4 linked regions of the Homo sapiens genome follow. The protein of the gene in region 3 interacts with the protein of the main gene of each other region in a pairwise test. Each region holds a gene or a part of one and is shown on either strand. Other genes may lie near its edges. The genes, in order: NECAB2, SOX5, TEX11 and USP15.

The links.
Region 1: the proteins of TEX11 (region 3) and NECAB2 interact in binary tests that used the Homo sapiens proteins (3 or more experiments, as listed by UniProt).
Region 2: the proteins of TEX11 (region 3) and SOX5 interact in binary tests that used the Homo sapiens proteins (3 or more experiments, as listed by UniProt).
Region 4: the proteins of TEX11 (region 3) and USP15 interact in binary tests that used the Homo sapiens proteins (3 or more experiments, as listed by UniProt).

Annotation. Positions count from the first base shown.
Region 1 is NC_000016.10:83,971,209-83,978,245, forward strand, and holds part of NECAB2 (N-terminal EF-hand calcium-binding protein 2), read left to right. Parts: intron 1-942; coding exon 943-967; intron 968-7,037. UniProt on the Homo sapiens protein: May act as a signaling scaffold protein that senses intracellular calcium.
Region 2 is NC_000012.12:23,528,975-23,533,678, reverse strand, and holds the end of SOX5 (transcription factor SOX-5), read left to right. Parts: 3' UTR 1-4,175; downstream 4,176-4,704.
Region 3 is NC_000023.11:70,528,408-70,534,716, forward strand, and holds the end of TEX11 (testis-expressed protein 11), read right to left. Parts: intron 1,593-6,309; coding exon 1,428-1,592; intron 781-1,427; coding exon 688-780; 3' UTR 533-687; downstream 1-532. UniProt on the Homo sapiens protein: Regulator of crossing-over during meiosis. Involved in initiation and/or maintenance of chromosome synapsis and formation of crossovers.
Region 4 is NC_000012.12:62,263,404-62,270,440, forward strand, and holds part of USP15 (ubiquitin carboxyl-terminal hydrolase 15), read left to right. Parts: intron 1-7,037. UniProt on the Homo sapiens protein: Hydrolase that removes conjugated ubiquitin from target proteins and regulates various pathways such as the TGF-beta receptor signaling, NF-kappa-B and RNF41/NRDP1-PRKN pathways.

The sequences.
Region 1 (7,037 bases), on a different chromosome or scaffold from region 3:
CTGCAGGACCCAAACAGCTCCTGTGAATAGCAAGGTCTTAGCGCACAGGTGTCAACATTGGGCCTGGGAGGCTTTAAAAATGCTGAAATCAGAGTGGGCCTCACAGCAGCTGATTCAGTCACCCTGGGGTGTGGCCCGGGCTGAGGAGGTTTTGAAAGCTCTCCAGGCGATGGTGTTGGAAGGGGCGGAAAGCTGCCTTCGAGCCTCAGCCTGGCAAGCAGCACCTGCCAGCCAGACCTTGAGGAAAGGGGAGCAGCTCTGTCCCACGGATTCAGATGTCACTGGAAAGGCAGAACGAGGAGGCACCTGGTCTTGTAGGTTCAGGCCAGCCTTGGAGCTGCCCTCCACCCATCCCTGCCTAATGCAGCCGGAACTTCGTCTGCGGCTGCTTTTCTGAACTCTTGGCGTCCTGTTTCTCCTCCTGCACCCCAAAATTAACGCAGTCCTGCCCGTGGCTGGCATTGTCACCAGGCCTTGCAAACACCTCTGTCGGACTTTGCCCAACCTCCCTGGAAACACACCAGGGGTTTTGGAAGGACTGCAGTGGTAAAGGTTGTGGCGCTCCCTGGGACACTGATTCGGAGTGTGGTTGTGTGCAGCTGAGCGTTTGGCGGTGGGTGAAGCCACGTGGACTGATGACTGTGGACCTACACCTGCAGGGATGGCCGTGGGCCTGCGTGTGTGTGTCAGCGTGGCTGGGAGCAGGCTGGTGGTACTGGCAGCCGCTTCCACGTGGGTGAGGGGAGGGCCTCTGTCTGCAACATCCCTCATCAGTTCCCCCTGGATCCCAGCCCGGGGAGGGGGAGAGGGAAGGGGGGCTCAGCTTCCCAGGACCCTAAGCTGCTCCTGGGAGAAGAGAAGGATCCCAGTATCCGGTCAGAGGCTGCAGGAAGCGCTTGCCTCTCCCTGGCCCAGGGCTGACTCCGCCTCTCTTTTCTGCAGATTTTCCGCCGTGCGGACAAAAATGGTGAGTTTCCCTTCCAGGCCGACGGCCGCCCCACTCCTTCTGTCCTCGTGCTTCATGGGGAAGGGATCAGGGATAGGAGACAAGCGCAACCTTGAACCTAAAGGTTTGGAGTGCAGGGGTCTGAAGTTAGAAGGCCAAATCCTGCTGCTGCTCTGTGCCTTGACCTCCCTGTCTGTAAAACGGGAATCCTAGTAGGGCCTACTTAGTAGGGACAGCTCCACTCAAGGGCTCAGTGAGTCTTGTCTGTGATGCCAAGAACAATGACTGGCCGTGGTAAGGGCTGGGTGTACTTTAGGCCTTTTCCTAGCTGGGCTGGACCAGAGGAGCCCGGGCTGGGGCCCAGAAACCCTCCTTGAAAGGAAGCCGCCAGCCTCACGCTAGGCCCTTCACAAGCCTTGGTGCAGTTCTTCATCGTAGCAACCTGAGCAGTCAGTGCTCTTGCCTCTGTTGACACCATAGCAGCCCAGAGAGGTTAAGCAATTTGCCCCAGGGTTGCCCAGCTGCATGAAGGAAACGGAGGCTCTCCTGAAGACCGGGGCCCTTTTCCCTTTCTCTCTCAGCCTCTTTAAAAATGTGAGCAGCGCCTTGTTGTGGCCACGGAATTCATAGCGCTCCACTTCTCCCGACTCCTTGGAGGGGCTTCACTTGCAGAAGGAGCCCAGGCCTTGAGAGAATAAGCACGTTTAGGCGGCCCAGCTGAGCCTCGGCTGACAAAAAGCACCTTCTTAAAAATACCAGAATCATTATTACAGTTGCAACGCAACTCACCGTGGACTTGAACCAAGACAGATTCCCTCTCTGGGCCTTGGTTTTCCCGTGGGTAAAGTGGGGCAATAACACTTGCCCTGCCTCCTTCCCTGGGTTTTGGGGAAAAGCCAGAGAGGCGGTGTGGGTGACAAATGTTTTTAAAGAGAATCGCGTGCTCCCGGTATGTTCATTCATTGAGAAAATGCACATCAAGTACCAAGCCTGTGGCAGGGGAAGAGCACGCAACAGAGACCCTGTGACCTGCCCCAGGGCCCTTGGTCCCCAACGCCTCTGGCCCCGGTTCCTCTCCTGCACAAGCTGCAGTTGAGGGTGGCAGCTCTGGCCTGGGTCTCCAGCACCCGCCTCATCCCTGGGAGTTCCTGTTGACGGCTCCCACCCAGGGCGGTTGCAGGGTGGAGTTGGAGGCCTTGGGCATGGTGGGAGGGCAGGTGCACAGGCCTGGGCTGGAATCAGTTCCAACGAGTCTCCCACCCTGGCCTCCTGCATCCCTGGGGGGTGACAGTGACCACTCCCAGGCCTCTGGGGAAGAAGGACCATCAGCAGTGATTCCATACGGAGCAGAGGAGGAATAAGAGGGACGTAGGGAGATGAAGTGGCTCTGGAAAAACAGCCGTAGCATCATGGCCTGAAAAGCCTTGGAGATGAGGAGGGGAAATCAGGGGGCTGTCCCTGAGATGGGGTCGCCGGAGCCCTCAGCGTCATTGCCTGTGTGCTGGCCTGGCTCCTCCAGCAGGTTGAGAGGTAGGGATTTGGGTTTGTCCCTTGTCCCGGGCCTGATACCCAGCACACAGTAGGTCCTCGGTAAATGTCTGTAGACTTGGTGGACGTGTTTGTTGGTGAGAGCGTGGCTGTGCGTATCTCGGTGACTCAGCAGCGTGAGGCTGTTGGGAATGCGTGTGTCCAGCGTGGGCCTCTAGCCATGGCTGTGCATCCCGAGTGTGTGTGCAGTTAGTGTGCGTGTGTGGCTTCCTGAGTGTGCAGCTCTGCAGGAGCCACTGCAGTGTATACACTTGGGCAGGTGGTGCCTGGCCCCCTCGGGCACAGATGGGGTTCTGTCCTTGCTGCAGGCTCCCCCCATCAGAGGCCATGTGTCCACCCCCTGAGCACAGCTGTGGGACTCTCAGTTTCCTTACTGCAGCCTCCTCAAAGGCCGAGCCTGTTCCTTCTCCTTGGGGCTTACATCTTACCAGCCACCACTATGTGACCGTTAGGGGCTGTCACCAGGGTGAATGTGGGTGTGAGATGCGGGTTCCAGCAAGAGCTTCCCAGGTCCCCCAGCCTGACTGCCTAGGCTCAAGTCCTGGCTCAGCCGCGTACCGGCTCTGGCCTCAGGCAAGTCACCAAATTCTGCAGTCTCAGTTTCCTTATCTGTAAATGGGAATAATTACAGCACCCACCTCAGAGGGCTGTCTGAGGATAGATAGTTGCTCTCCTGGCTTCGCTCATTGAAGATATCAATAAGTCCCCGCTGCTCTGCCTCAAATGCCTCGGAAATGGGAGTCCGCAGGTGTGGCTTGTCCAGAGGGGTTTGATTCCTCTGTGCTCAGCAGGGAATTCGGTCTGGGGGAGGCTGCCAGCAGTCACTGAACGTCTGTTATGCACCAGGACTTGAATGTGCTTTTTCCTTTAATCTTCATTGTGATCCTCCTGAGACAAGAAGTATCAACCCCCACCCTCCTTCCAGATGACGAAAACAAGGCTCGGAGATGGCACGTGATATTCTTCACATGGTCGGGGGGCAGCGGTGCAGGCAGGTTCTGATTCAACACAGCAGCTTAAAAGCTTGTAGGAGTGGGGATGGGACTTGGTGTGGGTATAGATAGGGGAGTGGTGTGGGAATAGAATGGCTGGGGAAAGAGGAATGAGTGTAGGGGTGAGAATAGGTGTCAAGGAGGTGTGGATCCAAGAATGAGAGCAGGTGTGCAGGGAGGTGTGGGTGCAGGGATGAGAGCAGGTGTGCAGGGAGGCGTGGGTGCGGGGATGGGAACAGGTGTGCAGGGAGGTGTGGGTGCAGGGATGGGAACAGGTGTGCAGGGAGGTGTGGGTGCGGGAATGTGAACCGGTGTGCAGGGATGAGAGCAGGTGTGCAGGGAGGTGTGCAGGGATGAGAGCAGGTGTGCAGGGAGGTGTGGGTGCAGGGATGAGAACAGGTGTGCAGGGATGAGAGCAGGTGTGCAGGGAGGTGTGCAGGGATGAGAGCAGGTGTGCAGGGAGGTGTGGGTGCAGGGATGGGAACAGGTGTGCAGGGAGGTGTTGGTGCGGGGATGGGAACAGGTGTGCAGGGAGGTGTTGGTGCGGGAATGTGAACCGGTGTGCAGGGAGGCGTGGGTGCGGGGATGGGAACAGGTGTGCAGGGATGAGAGCAGGTGTGCAGGGAGGTGTGGGTGCGGGGATGGGAACAGGTGTGCAGGGATGAGAACAGGTGTGCAGGGGGTGCAGATGTGGAGGCCGATAGGCCCACAAGCACACACAGGACTGCTCAACACTGACGCTAGCCCTGCCTCACGTGTCCACAGGAAGGATGGATGGGATGCCTCAGGGGAGCGGGAGATGGGGTGCAAACTCAAAGGACCCCCCAGGCTGCCCTTAGGACTTAGAGATTACAGGAACAAAGGCTCAGGGCTGCCCTGTCAGGGTGGCTCCTGTGACAGAGACTTGTTTGGCTGAGCTGGATACCGGATGCCCAGTCCCTATGGGAAGGTTAGCATGAGGGGCCTGACTGGCAGCCTGGGACATAAACTCAGGGGGTGGCAGAGGGCTGAGTGGCAGACAGCATTTCCCTTCAGGGACATGGACGCTGACAGGCTGACAGGCTCTTGGCATTTGAAAGGTCATGGAGACAGAGAGTGAGTTTGTGCTAATTAGCAAAGACACCTGCAAACGGCCCGCTTGGGGTCTCTGGCAAAAGTGCCAGCGCGGGCCCGCTTGGCCTGTCTAATTGGACTGGGGGCCTACGTAGGGCATGTTTTTTCCTCATTAGTGAATTCATTAGGGCCGTGATCAGGCGTTCAGGATAAATGTCAGCCGAAAGCTTAGTGAGGGGGCACCTTGCTGGCCTCTGTCTGCCTGCTCTCCCTGTGTGCCGAGGGGGCACCTTGCTGGTCTCTGGCTGCCTGCTCTCCCTGTGTGCAGAGGGGGCCCAAGGTACCTGGACAGGCACGTGGGGAGATGAGCCAGCCAGAGGGAGGCTGGGATTGGGGCTCACAACCCCTGTCATGCCCATGGTGACTGCCCCTCACCCAAAGTGGGGGTGCCTGAGCCAGCACCCACCCCCTGCTGGGTAGGTGGCGATGTCGCCACAAGATCCTACCCCTGGATTAGGTTGAGAGCCTGGACTTGGGAGCCAGATGGCCTGGGTTCAAGCTTCAGCTGTAGGACCTAGGCAAGTACCCTAAGGGCTCTGTGCCTCAGTTTACCCCTCTCTAACATGGAAGTGGTAGTACTACCTGTGTCGTGAGTGTTAAGAAGACTAAAGGAGTGAGTCCGTGGAAGGTACTCCACGTGTGGTGTGACTCCACACTGGGATTCCTGGGTTTTATCTTCAGGCTTGCCGAAGACACTCGGAAGGCATCCTCTGTCACAGAACACAGAAAGCAACAACTTCGATTTCACTTATCTCGTGGCTGACTTTGCGGACTTTTAGTTGTTAGGTTTTGGGTCTTTGGTTTGTGCATGTGTGGTTGGATTGGGGTTTTTTTGGCCTTTCCTTTGAAAGACAGAAATTCTTCCCACTGTAACCTTGAAATCTGAGCTGCGATGGGGGCATCTTGGGATATTGGCCCTAGCCCCCCGTGCCCACACGTTCATATTCTTTACCGGTCTCTGATACTTTATGCTCTATGGGGTTAAAGAGAAAAGTGGTGGCATGAAACCTTGGCAAGATCTGAGGACCCCCCCTCTCCTGAGCTTATGCTCTCACCCTGTGTTGAGCTCCAGCAGAGCTGCTGGGAGCACAGACAGAAGCACTGGAGCCTTTAAAGTTTAAGAATGACTCATTCTCAACCCAAGTACGTCTGCCATGTCGGGTTAGGCAGGTTGTGCGCTGCACAAGGGCACCCACCCGAGGAAATGGAGGGTTTCAAATCCAGGCTGCAATCCGCTTTCAACACATGTGCACTGACACTGGTCTCATCCTCTCGGCAGAGAAAGGAGAGTCTTTTTCTAATCCATAGGAAGGTGCCATGTGGACTCTCAGGGCCCTTGTCCCAAGCACCCAGCTTTGAATGCAGATCCTCTGGAAGTAATGCCAGGGGTTTATGCAGAGAGGCTGGGGGCCAGGAACTGTCATGGGCTCCCTCTTGTCTCTGACCTCCATGCCACTCACATAGTTTCTCTTAAGGAGGAACAGATCCTTGAGGAGGGGGGAGGTGGCTGCAGGGCAGGTGGGGGATGAGCTTGCTGGCATTTGCTCAGCAGGTCTGTTCAGGTGGAAGGAGCTGAGGGTGGAAGCTTAGGGACCGCCTCCCAGAGTCCCTGATGTTCTTAAGCCACCTCCCCTGGTGGCCCAATCTGATCCAAACCCACAAGACCTTCCTGGTAGGGCCAAAAGTGTCCCCAGAGCAACTGCAAGTGAAGGGAAAAGGTGAGGCGATGGGTGGGACTGGTGGCATGTGTCCCACCCATCCCTCCACAGAGCCCCTCCACAGAGGAGCTGTGGAGGCCCCTCTGTGGAGCTCCACCTCAGAAGCACAGCCTCTGGCCAGAGCGTTGGCACCTCCAGGCCTGGCACCTCCTTCCTGCATGGCTTGGCATCTAGATGGCTGCATCTGTGGCCTGGGAGAGGAGGTAACTGAGAACCTCATGCCGGCCATTGGCAGCCATCTCATGCTGCCTCAGGGAAGGACCTGAAGTTTGCCACATAGATGGGGCGGAGAAGAAAGGGTTCTTCTGTACTCTAAGAACAGTGCTGAGAGAGTCAGGGCTTAGGGGCTGGGATTGGGGTTGGGAGCATGCAGAGACCACTTGGCGTTTGGAAGCTATGGAGTGGTGGCTCATCCAGCTGCTGGTTTTTGGATCCACTTCATACCGATGGTGTGACATGGGACAAGTTGCTCACAGTGGGTTATCTTAAATAGCACCTGCCTCCAGGTGGCCATGTAAATTGAGAGAAAATTCACTGGCAGGGGGCAGATACTCTATATTTGTTGAACGCATGGAAAATGTTGAGTGCATGGTGAGCCCAAGAAAGCTAGCTATTGCATTATTGTTAGTTTGAGGATTATCTGTAAACAGGCATTGGTCTGGGAATTAGCTGGATGAGGCATGATTCTCTGTGTACTGGAGTTTACTGGTTAGTGTGGGA
Region 2 (4,704 bases), on a different chromosome or scaffold from region 3:
TCTTTACTTCTCTCCACCTTCTCCATCTCTCTACTTTAAAGATGGAAGTCTGTGCATGAGGGGAAAGAGGGAAAAAGAGCCTGTTTTTAACTTCCTTGCTATCCACCACAAAATAAGCAATTATTTTCTTTAGAGGACTTTATCTATTGCACACCACACTACATCTTTGAGCAAGTGCCAAATTTGTACTGAAGTGTTGACCAAGTTCATTTTTTCTCTTTACTTTTTCCTTTTCCTTCTTAAGTTAGGACAGTGTTAAATCTTAGACAATCCCTTGAAAAACCTGAAATACCAGCAGCTGGTGAGATTTGACTTTTTTTTTTAATGGAAACTGTAGGTGCTGTTCTCAGGTGAAAAGAGAGAGAGAGAGAGAGACATAAGAAATTTAGAGAAAAATATTTTCTGATCTTGGATTTTTGTGTGTATGTATGTATGTGATTATGGTACTAATAATAGGAATAACGTTGGACCATTGTGAGTTAAACCCACATCTGGGGATGAAATCCCACATCCTCCCAAGTGACTGGTCTAGAAATAATCTTGACCTTGACTTTGCACTTCAAATGACAACTTAACCAAGTATAGGGCTCAGAAATTATATTTTTAAATGTCTGATTATTATTGGATGGATCAGGTGGCCCTGTGTAATAGAGGTGTGCATGTATAACATGGAAGCTACTAGCAAACTGCTCCCAGATGTCCTTTCTCCCTGGTCAGTTGGTTCCATTAACGTTTGCTACTTAGTGATTTTTGTTTTTCCTGTTGATATTTTGAGCAAAACAATCATTGTTTTCATTGAATATATTTGGCCATTTTTTCAGACAAATAGAATTAGCTTATTTCTTCAACATTCCATCCTTTCCCGATCAGGAAATGAAACTGATGATTTTATAAGGTATTTTTCACCCCTCCATGAAGTGAGGTGGAGGCCTTTAGCATTTCAGAAGTGTGGGCCATATGTAGTTCATGCCATAAAAAGTAGGATTTAATTAAAAGTCATTGCAGCCCAATAAAATGGAGCCTGGCTGCACCCAGGGATCCTTGCCACTGCTCTTCCCTTGCTGTCAGATTAATCCACTGAAGTCCAACTTTGGTTCAAGCAGAGTATTTGCAAAGAGCAACAACTGAATGTGATGGGACTGCTTATGTAGATTTTGCCAGCCAAATGCCAAGGCAGTTGTAGGGCCTGTACAAATAAATGCAAAATCATTTCAAGTCAATTGCCATTATTTGTATTGAAGTATCAGATAGATAGTAAATACTGCAACTAGTAGCTTGATGTGCTATAGTTTTCACTCCAGTCATCATTTTCCTATCTCACCCCCCGAAACACCACCCTAAAGTTGGATTTTTACATATAAATAAAAAAAGAATCCCTTTTATTTTTCTCTCTCTCAGAAGACTTGCTCTGGGGTTTTGCTTGGAGGAGCTGATCATATCCTGCATGTCAGAGATTTCATTTTGTTTGTTTTTCTGTTTGTTTGTTTTTGATGACTTTATTTACATTTGAACTGCCTCTTTTTGCTAGTGTTGTAATGATGATGATGATAAAATAATAATAATAATAGTAATAATAATAATAATGGTCAGCTGTTCCCAGATTAGTAAGTTATGTATAATTTATTTTATTTCTCCCTTTCTATTTTATTCTGCTCTGATTTGGAAGTGCAGCCAATAAGCTGTTAGATATTTAAAACAAATTTCCATCTCCAACTCATATATGTATGTATATGTATATATATATATACATATATATACACACATATACACACACACACACACATTTACCCACAATTTTACTTCTCTTTCCGTAAGTTTTCTCTTTTTTAAGAATTTTGGCCCCAACAATATCAGTTCTGATGTTTAAAACAAAGGAGTGAATTAATAGGAGGGTCGTGTTCAATCTTAATTAACTTATGCTCTCATCACTCATTTTAGTTATTTAATTGCCACAGTCATCTAGAGCCAATTTTTTTTTGTTTTTGTTTGTTTTGTTTTTAAGCACTCTGGATAAGGAAAAAATAGACACTTGTTTTTATATCATTTTTATGTACAATGTGAAAACAGATTTTTAAAAAATTTGTTCTCTGTCTTTGTTAACAAATTCCTTCCGATTTATGTGGGTTCACCTCTCACGTTTGCTGGATACTTACTTTACACCATGTTATGAAAGATGCTTTGTTTTCATTTCATGAGTTTGGGCTACAAGAATACTTTGTTTTAGCTCCAGGTAGATGCCATTGAAGGCATTCATGGCTGAAATCAATTCTAACACACTTACCGATGAATTGACAACACTTTGGTGTTTGGTCTTTTTTTTGTTATATTTTGTTTTATTTGAAGGGGAAAACAAAATTGTTAATGGTGACTTTTAACTGCTGAAATTCAAAATTTGATTTTAGTTAGGTTTATGTCCGAGACTAAACTGTGCATGAACCGAAACAAAAAGCAAGTTCATACCGCTGCATTCTGTTCTCTTGTTCTGACGGTTAATTCACTGGACATCAAATTTTCTTTGCCCTAGTTTTCCCCAAAAGAAAACAAAAGCAAAAATAGTTATATTAATGTTGAAAGTGCTTTGAAGTCACTTGATAAAAGGTGCTATGAATAGCAACTTACTGTGTTACTACATTGCCTTTTTGGCATTGGTTGATTTATAATTTTGGTAAAGGATCCTAAAACCCTGTATTCTTTTTCTGTGCCCCATAATGACCAAAAAAGATAAAGAAAATGAGAGTAAGATCAAAAGATCAAACTAAAACATAAACAGTCTCCTTCCTGTCTGCTTTCTTACCTATCTGTTCACACTTTATCTCTTTCCCTTTCTCTCTCTCTCTCACATGCGCGCGCGCGCGCGCGCACACACACACACACACACACTTGCCCCAACACTGAGAAATAATCTTGCCAGAATTCTGGTTTTTATAGTTGTTGTAGTCCGTTTCTCTAAAAATAGTCCTGTTTTCATATGAATCTAAGAGAACATTACCGGAGAAAATAAAGTTACTCATTTATAGTTACTAATAATAAGTTAGTGATTAACTTACCACAATTGGATAAAATATAAAACTATTCTTCAGCACATTTATACCTAAATTAGTGAAGTCCATTTGTGAAGTTCATTTGGCATCTGCAGTTAAGAGTTAACCATGTATAAAATCCCTCCCAAAGAACATAATCATCGTTAGAACCAAATCCTCTTATAAAGAACAAATATAAAAAAGTTTTCTGTGGTGAAGCTATTTTATAGATTTGATTTCCGGAGTAGAATTTTACCTTAATTCACTTAAAGAAAATTAACCATTTTTTGGTCCAACTTCAGATATTTTCTTAATCCAGAAGCTGTGACTGTTCCCAGAAGAAACCTCTTATATCACATTTAAAACATAAAAAATAATTACACTTTCACTCATTCTAATGGGTAAATTGTTGAATTGTAATAAACAACTGTATATTTACAAACAGGTTTATAAGGTATTTGTCTATCAAATTAATAATAAAATAAAACTTACGGGGTCTGCAAGGAAAACTATGAAGGCCACTTAAAGTGGTTCAGGTATCCCTTTGTCTTGTAGGGCATAGCTGTTGGTTTAGCCAGGCTTTTACAGTATTTAATTTTAAAGTATCCTATAACTATCAACTTCCCAGGTTGAAGACGATGTGTTGAGTTTCCTACTGATTGATTGATTCCTGTCCTCCCCAGTGTTTCCGTCACTGGTTCACTAAAACAGTATTTATATAGCTCCACTGGCTCTAAAGCTCTTAGTCCTTCTAATATTTTGGATTTTACAAGTAAAAATGGAAAAAAAATAGAAAAGAGACAATCAAATGCCTGGAGCTTAAAACAAAGTATGTGCAACCTACCATCTCACTTGAAATTTAATAAAATAATAAGTAATTATGTAAATATAACATAGAGTTATAGATTTATATTTTGTTCATAACACATAGTGTAATATAAGTTGTATATTTTCATGTTTTTGGTTTTATGTTATCATTCATGCCACAATAAAAATAAAACAGGAGTTTATGTGCTCTTAAAAAAAAGATGTGGGTTGCCACCAACCTGTTTTTCGTTTTTGTTTTTTGTTTATTTTATTTTATTTTTTTGCATTCTCCTTTTTCAGTATTACTGCCATGCAAGGCACCAATAAAAACAGCAAATGTGTTCTTTACTTATTATACTGTGTTTCTTTTCACAATTATTGTTATGAGGGTGTAATTAGTTTTATTATGAAAAGAACAAAAGTATGGAAATTTAATTTTGTTTTTAATATAAATAATCCCTCTTATTGAAGTTGACTTTAAGAACTAAAGGTTTAATTTTTAGCTGTGGACATTCCCAGAAAGACAGTCAGGACTTGATATAATGCATTTCACTCAGACAGATCTAGCTTCACCATACTGTCAAAAGATACTGTTCTTATATGTAATTGATTCAACACAATTGAAAACCCAACAGTCTAAAGCACCTTTAATATTGTTGTTTTCCCTGGCTGGACACTATCCTTGGGTGGGGGATGGGGGGTTTCTATGCTTTAGAATTGTGCTTTATCCTTTCGTTTGTATAGAAGATTTATAAATTTCAGATCATGAAATTACTAAGAACTATGAATAATTTTCACCTCGCTGGTATCTCATTTTGAATAATGGATATTTCTGAATTGTTTAACATTAGCCTCTCAGTTCTACCTTAAACTTTTT
Region 3 (6,309 bases):
CCTGGGTTCAAACGATTCTCCTGCCTCAGCCTCCCGAGTAGCTGGGACTACAGGCACGCGCCACCATGCCTGGCTATTTTTTTTTTTTTTGTATTTTTAGTAGAGATGGAGTTTTGCCATGTTGGCCAGGCTGGTCTTGAACTCCTGGCCTCAAGTGATCTGCCCACCTCAGCCTCCCAAAGTGCTGGGATTACAGGCACAAGCCACTACGCCTGGCCTGGAATAAGTTCTGTTAGAAACTGGGCAACAGATTCTCAAGGATGTTAGAGAGAGATTTCATGAATCAGATAAATGCTGGCCCTGGTGACCACTAAGGTCCTTCCAAATAAGAGTCTGGGATTCTTTGATATCTTCAGGGATTAGGAATTTGAGCACTTTGGGAATAAAATGCAATCTGTGTTGAACTGGGATGAACATTCTCTTTTGTTCAGATGGGGCATAAACCATCTTGCTCTCACATGGTCTATTTCAATATCATCCTTAGCACTTTGGAAAATTCATTTGTCCCCCAGAAATGAGCTGGTCACCAAGGTAAATTCAGCATGCTTTTATTTTAGAAAGTTTATTCAACAACATGAAAACAGGGTCTGAGCAAACAGAAACAAAAGCTCAAGAGAAACTCTGGCAAAAATTTAAACAGTCAGCATCTCGGGACAATGTATCTTCTTCATGTGGCCATGAGCTTGCCTAATCTGACTTGCTCCAGTAGCCATGTTCATGAAAAACTGGGCCCTTGTTGTTACTCAATGCTTCCACAAGCTGACTATACAGCATATTCATCTGGGAAAGAGAACAACAAATAGATTTCTTGAGGGGAAAAAGAAATGTGGGAAAGCTTCCCAGACCCACGGTGATGGCATGAAAGTCTAACCGTTACCTTCGGAGATCTGAAGCATCTCAGATTTGGGGAGAAAATACAGTCCTCTCTTGAGGAAAAGGAATCCCCTATTATAAGGGAGAAGATACTTAACTATAAAATATCCTTTGCTCTTATTTGGTAACAAGGCTTTTTCTCTACCAAACCTCTCCTGGTTAGCCAATGGCCCAGAACTCTGCAACTGAGAATAGTTCCTGGAGAAAATGCCTTTTTCAACAGTTATTGCTTTGAGCAGAGGCCAGTCCTTTCCCACATGCACTGGCACTGACAGTGATGCATCTTTCCAGAGCTCACTCTTGGCATTCCTCTTAATTAGATTCCATTTGCTATCCTTAAATTTCCCCCTGTTCTCTGTCCTTCTTGGTTTTTGCTCTAAGGAATTACTGTTTATGGTCTCCTGATTCTTGAAGTTATGTGGAACCATTGAGAGGAACAATGAGCAAGATCCTTTCCTAGCCAAGGAGGATGGGGTTGAGTCCTTGTGGAGAGCCCAGCCATAACCTCTTGCCCCCTAGGTCATGTCATCTGCCCTAGCCCTCTCCCTCCTTACCTGAGTTTCATAGCTTTCCTTGAAGGAGGTAAGGTGGTTAAGGAAACGCAAGGCCAGGCCACACCACTTTTCAGCAGATGCATACTTGCTCCTGCTAAACATAAGTACTCCGGTATTCCAGGACTTGACCATCAGCCAGAGAATCTCCATTTCTGGGTAGTCTTTCTATAATCCAAGAACAGAAATTTTGCAGTTATTACTGTCACAGTTCATTGTGGCACTACCTGTATCCATGCTATGTCCCTTTATTACTAAACAAACAATAGGAGCTCTGCTGATGTTTAGGAAGGTCTGTGCTCCTGGAGAGTGCAGGAGGAGAGCACTTTGAAGGTTTGTCAGCTGTAGAATGTTCCATAGCAAGATCTCATGAAGAGACGTAAACCGAGGTCCTCTCTGACTGAAGGAAAGAATTAGAAAGATTCCTAATCTTCCTGAGGCACGAGAAAAACTTGCATACTGTTTGGGGCTTCCCTTGATTCTGTCTTCAGTCAATTACCTCCCTAATACCTACCTCTACTTTTCGGATAAGGTTGTCAAGAAGCAGTTTTATTGAATTTCTTAATTTCTGTCACCAGAATTAGTCCATATTTGGAGTAGAAATTATATTCATCTTCAGAGTTAACGATATCTACCTAGCTATGAACACAGCACACATTTCTAAGATGGTCCCTTAGCCTTATCAGTGGTCTTTAACATGACTAATCACAAGATTATATTTGCTTCTTCACAATACTTTGCAATAGTGAAAAGTATTAGTCTAAGAAGCTACTTTCTTGGTTCTTGCATAGGAGATGGAACACAAAGAAAGCATTCATGTTAAAGCCCCAGAAGGGAGAAATGTGATAGGAGACACATTAGGCAGCAGCTTTTTGAGAGTGTCAAGAATGCTGTCTCAGCTGTCATCCTTTCATTCATTTGGATCCAAAAAGAAATTACTATACATAAAACACTGTGATAATGAGGGCACTAAGAGGGAAAAGACAAAACTTTTATCCTAAAGGTTGTGCAATGCTTTTGGGGACACAAGGCATCCACATGTAAAGACGACTTCACAAGGTATGTGATTAAGAGACACAAACATTAGGTGCTCTCATTCAGTTAAAGAAATGAGCACTAGGATATTCCAGTCAGAGGCGGTCTAGTCTCTGCTTGAAACACTACTCCTCATCCTTGTCCACTTCATAGACTTATACTTTTTCTTCAAATTCACAAGAACAGTTAGTTGTCTGTTCCCACAGTGAGCTTTCCATTCCTCTAATATAACTTATGTTATATTGTTTTGAAATGCTATGTATTTATCTCCTCCAGACTATTGAGTTCCTTGAGGTACAGGGAATTTTTCCTGTGCATTTTTGTATCTTCAGAGTCCAGCACTGTGCCTGGCACATAAGAGGCACAACAGATGTTTGCTGAATGAATGAATGAACAAATGAATCAATATCCAGTCAGATGCCACCTCCTCAGTGAGGATTTCCCTGGCTCTCCACAATTTCTTGCTCAAACCTCTTTGCCCCTCTGCTACTTTGTTCACAGCACCATAATAGTACTTTGAACACTGTACTGCCTGTCTCCCCCACTAGGCAGGGAGCCCCTTGAAGGTAAAATGACATTTGCCTTTGCTTGGCACAGTGTCTGATACAGGGTATGAGTGTTGTGATTTTAATGTTGTGAATGAAAAAAATGACTTAAACAAACAAACAAACATGATCTTAGGGTAGATGAGTAGGATCTACATATACAGAGATTATATGAAATGTGCAGAATAGGCAAAGCCATAGAGACAGAAAGGAGATTTGTGGTTGCCAGGGGCTGGGGAAGGGAGGTATGGGGAAGGACTGCTAATGGGTATAGAGTTTCTTTTGGGGATGATGAAAATGTTCTAGAATTAGATAATGGTGATGGTTGCACAATCTTTTGAATATACTATAACTCACTGAACTGTATACCTTAATGTGAGTTTTATGATATATGAACTAAATCTCAATTAAAAAGAAAAATATAGATATTCAGAGAAAGAGAAGGGCATTCCATGTGGGTAGAACAGAATAAATGAAGACTTGGATTGTACTTGAGAACAAGCATGTCTTAGGAAGACCAAGAGTTCTTTGGCCTAAGCAGACGATTTATGTAGAGGAGTTAACGGGAAATAAGACTGGAAATGTAGGATGGAGCTTCCTAAGCCTTTCCTCAATGTTCTTCCTCAGAACACTAGTGTCATGAGAAATGTTAACAGATGGTCTATGAAAATAGAGTTCTTTAGTCAAATACATTTTGGAAATGCCGCATTCTATATATCACCCTTTTGGAGCATTATAATGCACACTAGTTCACTGAAAGTTTAGGGAAGTTTTACAGTAAAGAAACCATGGAACTTTGTCTAATCCAGGGTATGTGGAACGTTTGCTAACATCTTGTGGGCTGGAGTGTTAAGGGTTTTTGCATTACAGGCTTCAGATTTTGAAATTTATCCTGCTGGCAACGGGAAGGCACTGAAACTTTTTGAGAAGGAGAGTGATATGATGAAAGTGTAGTTTTAATAAGATAGAAATGCCAGTGGTGTTTAGAACAGACCTCCGTGTGGGAAAACACAGACAGGGAGACGTGTTTAAAGGGAGTTATGGCCTGGCGCAGTGGCTCACACCTGTAATCCCAGCACTTTGGGAGGCCAAGGCGGGCAGATCACCTGAGGTCGGGAGTTCGAGACCAGCCTGACCAACATGGAGAAACCCCGTCTCTACTAAAAATACAAAATAGCTGGGTGTGATGGCACATGCCTGTAATCCCAGCTACTCGGGAGGCTGAGGCAGGAGAATCGCTTGAACCCAGGAGGCGGAGGTTGTGGTGAGCCAAGATTGTGCCATTGCACTCCAGCCTGGGCAACAAGAGTGAAACTCCAAACTCCGTCTCAAAAAATAAAATAAAGGCCCGGCGTGGTGGCTTGTGCCTGTAATCCCAGCACTTTGGGAGGCCGAGGCAGGCAGATCACGAGGTCAGGAGATCAAGAACATCTTGGCTAACATGGTGAAATCCTGTCTCTACTAAAAATACAAAACATTAGCCGGGCGTGGTGGCAGGCACCTGTAGTCCCAGCTACTCGGAAGGCTGAGGCAGGAGAATGGCGTGAACCTGGGAGGCGGAGCTTGAAGTGAGCCAAGATCGCACCACTGCACTCCAGCCTGGGCGACAGGGCGAGATTCTGTCTCAAAAAAATAAATAAATAAAAATAAAATAAAATAAAATAAAAGGAGTTGTGTGATCTAAGAATGAAGTGATGAGGGTCAGAACTAAAATAGTGACAATTTAGATGGACGGATGTAAGAATCATTTAAAGGAAGAATCAATAGAATTTGGTAACTGATTTGATATGGGGAATGACAGGTCAAGTGAAAATGGCTCTAAGGTATGTAGTTTGAATGGCTGAAAGAATGCTGGCATCACTGAAAGAAAAAATTGAAGGACATGTTTCTGGGGATAAGGGACAACAATAAGTTCTATTTTAAACAAGTTGGCTTGAGGTAACTCTGGAGATAAGCAGGCTGTTGCAGATATGGATTGGAACTCAGGTAATAGTTAAAGTGTATTAATTCACTTAAAGGACAGAGTACAGAATACAGAGTAGCAAAGAGTAGAGAATATTGGAAATGTTCATAGTTGGGTGGTAAGAGGGAAAAGAACGCAGAGGAGTGGCGAGAAAATAAAGGACAAAGGAAAACAGAATTTCAATAAGGAGGCAGTGGTCAATAACGAAGGCCAGGGAAAAGAGACCATCATATTTGCCTAGACGGTGGTAATTTGTGGTCTTGTAAAGTGTGGCTGACAGTGCAGAATGTGAGGGAAAGAGTGGCTCAAGATGAGGACAGATAGGTTAGTAGGATCTTGTATACCACATTCAAGATTTTGGTCTTTATTTTAAGAGCAATGGGAAACTACTAAAGAGGATTTCAAAAGGTCATGCATACTCAAAAATGTAAAAGATTGGCTGGGCATGGTGGATCACACCTGTAATCCCAGGACTTTGGGAGGCCGAGGTGGGCGGATCACGAGGTCAAGAGATCGAGACCATCCTGGCCAACATGGTGAAACCTCATCTCTACTAAAAATACAAAAATTAGCTGGGCGTGGTGGCGGGTGCCTGTAGTCCCAGCTACTGGGGAGGCTGAGGCAGGGGAATCGCTTGAACCTGGGAGGCAGAGGTTGCAGTGAGCCGAGATTGCACCACTGCACTCCAGCCTGGTGACAGAGCGAGACTCCATCTCAAAAAAAAAAAAAAAAAAAAAAAAAAGTAAAAGATCACCTTGGTTGCTGGGCAAAGAAAGGAAGGAAGAAAGCAAGAGTAGATGTGAGGCCAGTTAAAAGGTTCCTGAGATCACTAAACTAGCTAAGATAAAAGGTGTGTAACTTGAACTAGGTTACTGATGGTGAAAGATAGGAGGAAGTAGATGAATTTGAGAGATATTTGGGAGGTCAAATTGATTGATAGTACTTGGTGATAGATTAGAAGTGGGAGTGAGGGAGGTGCTGAGGATGACTCCTAGATGTCTGGCTTGGGCAACCAGAAGAATGATGGTGTCATCCAATGAGTTAGGGAACACTCGAGTTTTATTTTAATTTGCATTAGTTGCCCTCATGCCCAGCATTGCTTATGAAAATCATTAATCCTCAATAAAGAAATGCATCCACACAGCTACTGACCTGAAAGCCACATGGACTTGCCTACGTGTAATACAAATCAATGTCAGCAAACTGAGGTGTTTGCTCTGATGGTTTTTGGGGCCACATATTTTAAACCAGTTTTCTCTGTCCTCAACATCTTAATACATATGGCAGCCACGTAGATCTCTAACTGAATCGTAGGTATTCTGGAGCACAAATGCCTGTCCTT
Region 4 (7,037 bases), on a different chromosome or scaffold from region 3:
TGCAGATAATGACTGTCTCATGGTAACTCGGGTAACTAACTTCCATACCTAGGCAAGTATAAAGATTTATTTCATTCTGTGTAAGTACTACAGTTTCTCTTTATTTGTAAGCAGTGAATGATTTTTATCTAAAAACTGATTTTCTAGAGATGAAAATAAGTTACACAAGTGTGAGATGAAGAGAAACATACTTTATGATGTATTTAGTTCTAGACTTTATATTGAGAAGTAAATCAAAATTAATACGAGAGTAATACCTTTTTAAAAAGCAAGAAGAAGGTAGCACTGATTTGTATAAGGAATAAAGCAGTCTCAAAATGATATTTGTTGATCTGTGTTTCAATTTCAACAAGAGATCAGAAAAACACGAACAAAATTTAGAGTTTAGGAACTATAGGAAAGAGATAAATGAACTAGAATTGTATCGCTTAGGATGAATTAAAAACAATTTTCAGATACATGGTGGTTTCTTCTGATGAGACAAAAAGATAATTTGCTTAAGGTACATATGAGTATTTTAGGAACATATTTAAGGAATGGTAGTTAATGAGTTACAAAGAAAATTATGGGTTATAAAATACTCTCTTTGGAAAAAAAGTTTTTGAAACAGAGTCTCGCTGTGTCGCCCAGGCTAGAGTACAGTGCGTGGTCTCGGCTCACCGCAACCACCTCCAGGGTTCAAGTGATCCTCCCACCTCAGCCTCCGCAGTAGCTGGGCCTGCAGGCACATGCCACCACGCCCAGCTAATTTTTTATTTTTAGTAGAGACAGGGTTTCCCCATGTTACCCGGGTTGGTCTCGAACTCCTGGCCTCAAGTGATCTGCCTACCTTGGCCTCCCAGAGGGCCGGGATTACAGGTGTGAACCACCTGCAAAATTTCTGGCCTGGAAATTTTTAAAGAAATGGGCCTATTATGAGTAAGTAAAACATAACCACAAATCATCCAAAGCACTGCTTCGTTTCCACCATTTTTATTAAATGTTATTCATCTGCCAATCATTTTCAGTAATTTTTATGTGTGATTATGTTAAGTGGTAATGTGTAGTTAACTTTTGCAGTTTAGCAAAACATTGCATGCCATTTTTGTATAAACCCTAATAACTGTAGTAGGTAACTTTACAGAGTAAGTAATTTGTGTGTGAAGTCATTTAAAATCTCTGTGACATTTTCATTTCAATAATTGCCAAAGAATCTGATCAGTGAAGTTTTAGACAAGAGACATTGATTTCAGTTTTTAGAGCTTTCTGTCCATTCCGACTTTTACTTAGAAATCTTTGAGGCTTAATTTTATTTGATCCCTTATGTTCGTGCAACTTTGAAACTAAAAGAAAATAACCTTATACTCACAAATCCCTTAATAATGAAAAGGAACACTATTACTCAACATGAATTTCAAAATATTTAGTGTATACTTAAAGAAATTTTTATATTACTATTACTTTTAAAATTAGTTTCAGTAGTGCCAGGGTGTTTACGACCAGAGTAGGGTATATACTACATCATTTATAGGAAATGAAACTAAAAGGAAAAACTTCTTCAGTCTTGGTAAATTGGTGAAAACAAGGACAGAGATAGTGACCTTAAGGCATGTTTCACATCTTAGATGCTTAAAAATCTAGGAAAGCAACTTTTCTTAATTTAAGCCTTTTTCGTAAGTTTTTAAATGACTTCTGTTAGTGAGTCCAGGGTTAATGTACCCTAATAGTCCAGGAAGGTCCAGAGCTAGTCAATGATTTCGTTTATCTGTTTTGTGAAATTAAGGCTTTTTTTCCTAAATTATACCATTTTCCTGTTAGCACATATAAGGCATTAAATGACCTTTTTGCAAAATGGTTTTGTGACAGTTAACAATTTTGCTTCTACGTAAGTGTAACAAGATAAAATCAGTTTGTCAGGCCATGACCTGTAATATTACATTTAAAAACACTATGTGCCAGGTACTGTTATAAATGCATATTGACTTATTTACTCATCACCATATTACCACAATTCTGGGAATCGGTGTTATTCACATTTGACAAAATAGGAATCATAGGCTCAAAAAGGTTTTCACATAGTGGTATAGCTGGGATTTGAACCCAAGTAGTTTAGGTCTTTGGTTTGTGCCCTTAAAGCACTGTACCACATTGCCTCTGATTTTATTTAAAAAAATTTTTTCTAGAGACAGAGTCTCGCTTCATCACCCAGGCTGGAGTGTAGTGGCATAGTCATAGCTCACTGTAGCTTCAAACTCCTTGGCTCAAGCAATTTTCCTGCCTCAGCCTCTGAAATAGCTGGAACTACAGGTGTGCGCCACCACACCCAGCTAATTTTTAAAGTTTTTGTGGAGACGGGATCTTACTGTGTTGCCTAGACTGGTTTGAAACTCCTGACCTCAAATGATCCTCTGACTTCAGCCTCGCAAGTATTAATAGCTGGGATTACAGGTGTGAACCCCTATGCCCAGCCTCTGTCTCTTATTTTAAAGATTCATTTTTTAAAAAGTAGATTCACTTTAAAAAGAAAAGAACCTATTTTTCTTTTTAAAGGAAGTCTATTTTATATTTAGTAGCAGAATTCTACCATTTGCCTCTTGTGACTGTTCAGTTTAGATATGATAGAACATGTAGGAAATCTTAACACCTTGCTTCTGGATATTAAAACATGCTTAAAGATTGATAGGTGAATAATTGAATGTACAGAGCAAATGTCATTTTGATCCACAAGTACATTCAGACAAAAAAATTTGAGGTCATTTACTATTGAGCTTTTGAATTTTAATTGTCTATCAATAATCATAAGCTCTTATTAGAGATGATATGGCCCCTTCACATATAGTTTTACAGAAATAACCCATGAAGCATATAGTAAGATCTTGTAGGCTATTTTGTTTCGGTACTTGGTCCATATTTTAAAAGTATGGTATTGGTTTACTATAAGCCACAAATACATACGGCTTTCTTCTTGGACTTAAATCCATATGAACCACTCAGCACAGAAAATGCAAATATGAATGCATTATTATGTTCACCAACTGATTTTTTCCCTAGAGATAACTCTTAAAGAATTTTTGAAGTGAAAGAACATTTAAATTAAGATAGTGGAAGATACAATGATAATAAAACAGTCAATTTTGCTATCTTAGTCTTGAATTTATCTTATGATGTGAGTTTAGAGTGATTCTTCTTTTTTTCACTGAAAATCACTTCATTAATAAGTCATGATTATTGACAAAAGTAAATTGAAACCATTGGGCATATTGGTAGGGAAATAAGGGGAAGATAGAGAACAACTGATAAAGGTTGATTATGTGCATTACGAGATTTGATCCTCAAAAGAAGGACCAAAATATATATATTTATATGACTTATAGATGAGGAATCTGAGAGAAATTAATTTGCTTGCTCATAGTTTACTACCAGCGGACATTTATTAAATGCTTAGTCTGTCGCAGCCACTATTTTAAATGCTTTACACTTACATAGCCTTTAAAGTACATGCTCTTATTACACTTCATTTTATCTTTGATGATTTCAGAGCTGGTTTAAATACCTGGTTTATAAAGATTTAAAGTACTAGATACTATCTAATACTAAGAATAGATCCTTAGTATTAAAAATGGTTTTATGCTGTCACTACTCGAATGTAATTCAAACAATATTTCATTAAACCATGGGAATTTCTCTTTTTTCTTAGTCCTTGTATAGAATTTTTCAACAATTACTAAATACTTTTTTTCTTCCCTGAGTAATGTCAGTCTAGCTTGTTTCTTTTAATTTCCTCACTTACCACTGTAATTCACATTCTGTGTCTCATATTCATTCCTCTGAAGCCACTTCGCCAGACTCGTTCTCCCATTTATCCTTTAAACAGGGGAATGTAGATCCTTTAGATTTTATCACCCAGTTTACACAAAAGTCACTATTCAAGAAATCTAGCATAAGCCTAGTAAGTAGCCTCAGTTTTGGATACAGATTAAAATTATTTGAGGGAAGGGTCAAAAATGGCTCCTTACAAAGAAGGAAATAAGTTCCAATTATAATATAAAACAGAAAACCCCTGTAGGATTAACCTGCATTTGATTATGTCTAGACTGCCTTTACTACTTCCATCACTAAGATTCTACATGGTTTCCTTATAGCTCTCCAAAAAGAAAAGAGTAATGATGCCTTTTTTTCCTCCAAGGAATGGAGAACTAAGAATGCTAACTGTCCCTTCCATTCTCCCTTTAGTTTTGAGAAGACCCAGATATTAGCGTGGTAATTCCCCACCATAAGAGAAAATCATTTAGCAGAAGTACCAGTAGCAAGGACTTCTTTGTGAAGGAAGTCAAAGATCTCACAAAGAAGTTCAAGGGTGGCTCTGAGGCCAGGGTATTCTAAGTTTAGAGCCAGTTAAATCAAGACCTGAGAACATTTAGAGACAAAGTTACTTAACTGAAAAGAGCATCAAGTTCCTTGTTCCAGGTAGAAAACACCTGGTAATCTGGATTGATTTCTGTTATTTACCCATATGTTTTTACAGCTTAACAAAGTTTAACAGGTTAGTCAAGAGATTTGCCTTTGATAAAAAGATGGGAAATTTATATTCATACATTTGAATGGATTTCAAGCTGAAGAACTTTTTAATTCTCAGGAGAGATGTAGCTAAGTATTTATATGTACCACATAGTTGTGGCTATGGTTTACAATAACTTATTACTCATTTACTATGTTAAGAGCATTTTAAAAGTTCTCTAGATACAGGTTCCATATATAATGTAATATATTTATTCCAAATATATTACATATATGAAATACATGGTAGTATTCTCATTTTACCAGTACAGAAACTGGGATAGTTAAATGTATATGGTCATAACACTTAGTCAGTGGTAGAGCAGGAGGTCTAACTTAAAGCTTGCATTTTAAATTCTAAGTGTACTGCCTGCCTATGTGTGATAGAGCCATACCCAGATTATGGAAGCAACTTTTTGAAAGACAAATACTTGAAAGTATTAAAATCAAGAAATGACAGCTTTGTAATACTTGTTAAACACATTTTCATTTGTTATTAATATCAAGAGCCTCTAGAATTTTGTGAGTCTTCTTGTTTTAGCCTTGTAGTCTCAGCAGTCTCATTTCTAATTAACATATCTCTGTTTTGATACAGATAGTGTCTCCCATTTCCTGCAAATTATTTGCTTTTTCCTGCTTTTGGGGCCTTTATGCCCCATTTCTGTTGTTTCAGATACTTCTTAAAAATTACTGACTTTCATTTCAAAACCTAGTTCAAAGTCAGTCTCTAAAACCACCTCTAATCTCATCCAAATTTGTGGCCCCTCCATTCTTTGCTTTTAAAATATATATGTATATATAAAACAGCTTTATTGTGATGCTATTCACATACCTTACAATTTGCCCACTTAAAGTGGACAGTTCACTGGGTTTTAGTATACTCGAAAGAGTTGTGCAGCCATGACCATAATCAATTTTGGAATCCAAAAAGGAACCTCATACCCATTAATAGTCACCTCCCATTTCTCTCCCAAACTCCTCTGTTCTAGGCAGCTACTAATCTATTTTCTGTCTTTATATATTTGCCTATTCTGGATATTTTATATAAATGGAATCGTATAGTATGTGCGATTTTTGCATCTTGCTTCTTTTACTTAGCATACATGTTTTCTAGGTTCATGCATGTTATAGCATATATCAATGTTTATTTTTACTGCTGAATGATACAGTCATGAGTCACTTAATGACAAGGATAACTTCTGAGAAATGTATGGTTAGGCAATTTTGTCGTTGTGTGAACATCTTAAGGGGGTACTTACACAAATCTAGATGGGATTGCCTACTACATACCTAGGATGTATTGCCTATTGCTCCTAGGCAAAAAAAACCTGTACAACATGTTACTGTAGTGCATACTGTAGTCAATTCTAATACAATGGTAAGTATATATATATGTGTGTGTGTATAAATATATATATGTGTGTGTGTGTATATATATATATCTAAACATAGAAAAGGTAGAGTAAAAATACAATATTATGATCTTTTTTGTTTTTAGAGACAGGGTCTGGCTCTGTCACCCAGACTGAAATGCAGTAGCCCAATATTGGCTCACATTGCCCTTGATCTCCTGGGCTCAAGCAATTCCACTGCCTCATCCTCCCAATTAGCTAGGACTACAGGCAAGCACCACTGTGTCTATTTTTTATTTTTATTTTTTTGTAGAAATGAGGATCTTGCTGTGTTGCCCAGGCTGGTCTTGAACTCCTGGCCTCAAGCACTCCTCCCACCTTAGTCTTCCAAAGTGTTGGGATTATAGGCATGAGCCACTGTGTCTAGCCAGACATAATGTGTCTGTTATTGACCTAAATGTTGTTATGTGGTATGTGACCATATTCCATTGTATAGATATAACACATTTGATATATCCATTTATCAATTGATAGACATTTGAATTTCCAATTTTTGCCTATTTTGAATAATCCTGCTATGAACATCCATTACAAGTTTTCATTTCTCGTGTATATACCTGTAAGTGGAATTGCTAGGTCCCTGTTTAACTTTTTAAGGAACTGCTAGACTGTTTTTCTAAGTGGCCGTAATTTTACATTGCCACCAGCAGTGTATGAGGGTTCCAGTTTTTTCACCTCGTCAGCACTTATGTTCTTTTTTTTAATATATAGCCATCTTAGTGGATATGAAGTAGTATCTCATTGTAGTTTTGATTTGCATTTTCTTGATAGGTAATGATGTTGAGTATCTTTTCACCTGCTTATTGGCCATTTGTATGTCTTTTGGATGTCTGTCCAGATTCTTTGCCCATTTAAAAAATTTGGTTATTTTGTCTTTTTATTATTGCATTGTAAAAGTTCTCTAGATACAGGTTCCTTATTAAATAGTTAATTTACAAATTTTTCTCCCATTCTGTGGATTTTCTTTTTACTTTCTTGGTAGTGTCCACTGAAACATGGAAGTTTTTATTTTATTGAAATTCAATTTGCCTGTTTTTTCCTTTGTCACTTTTGCTTTTGGTATCATGTCTAAGAAGGCTTGGCTTAACT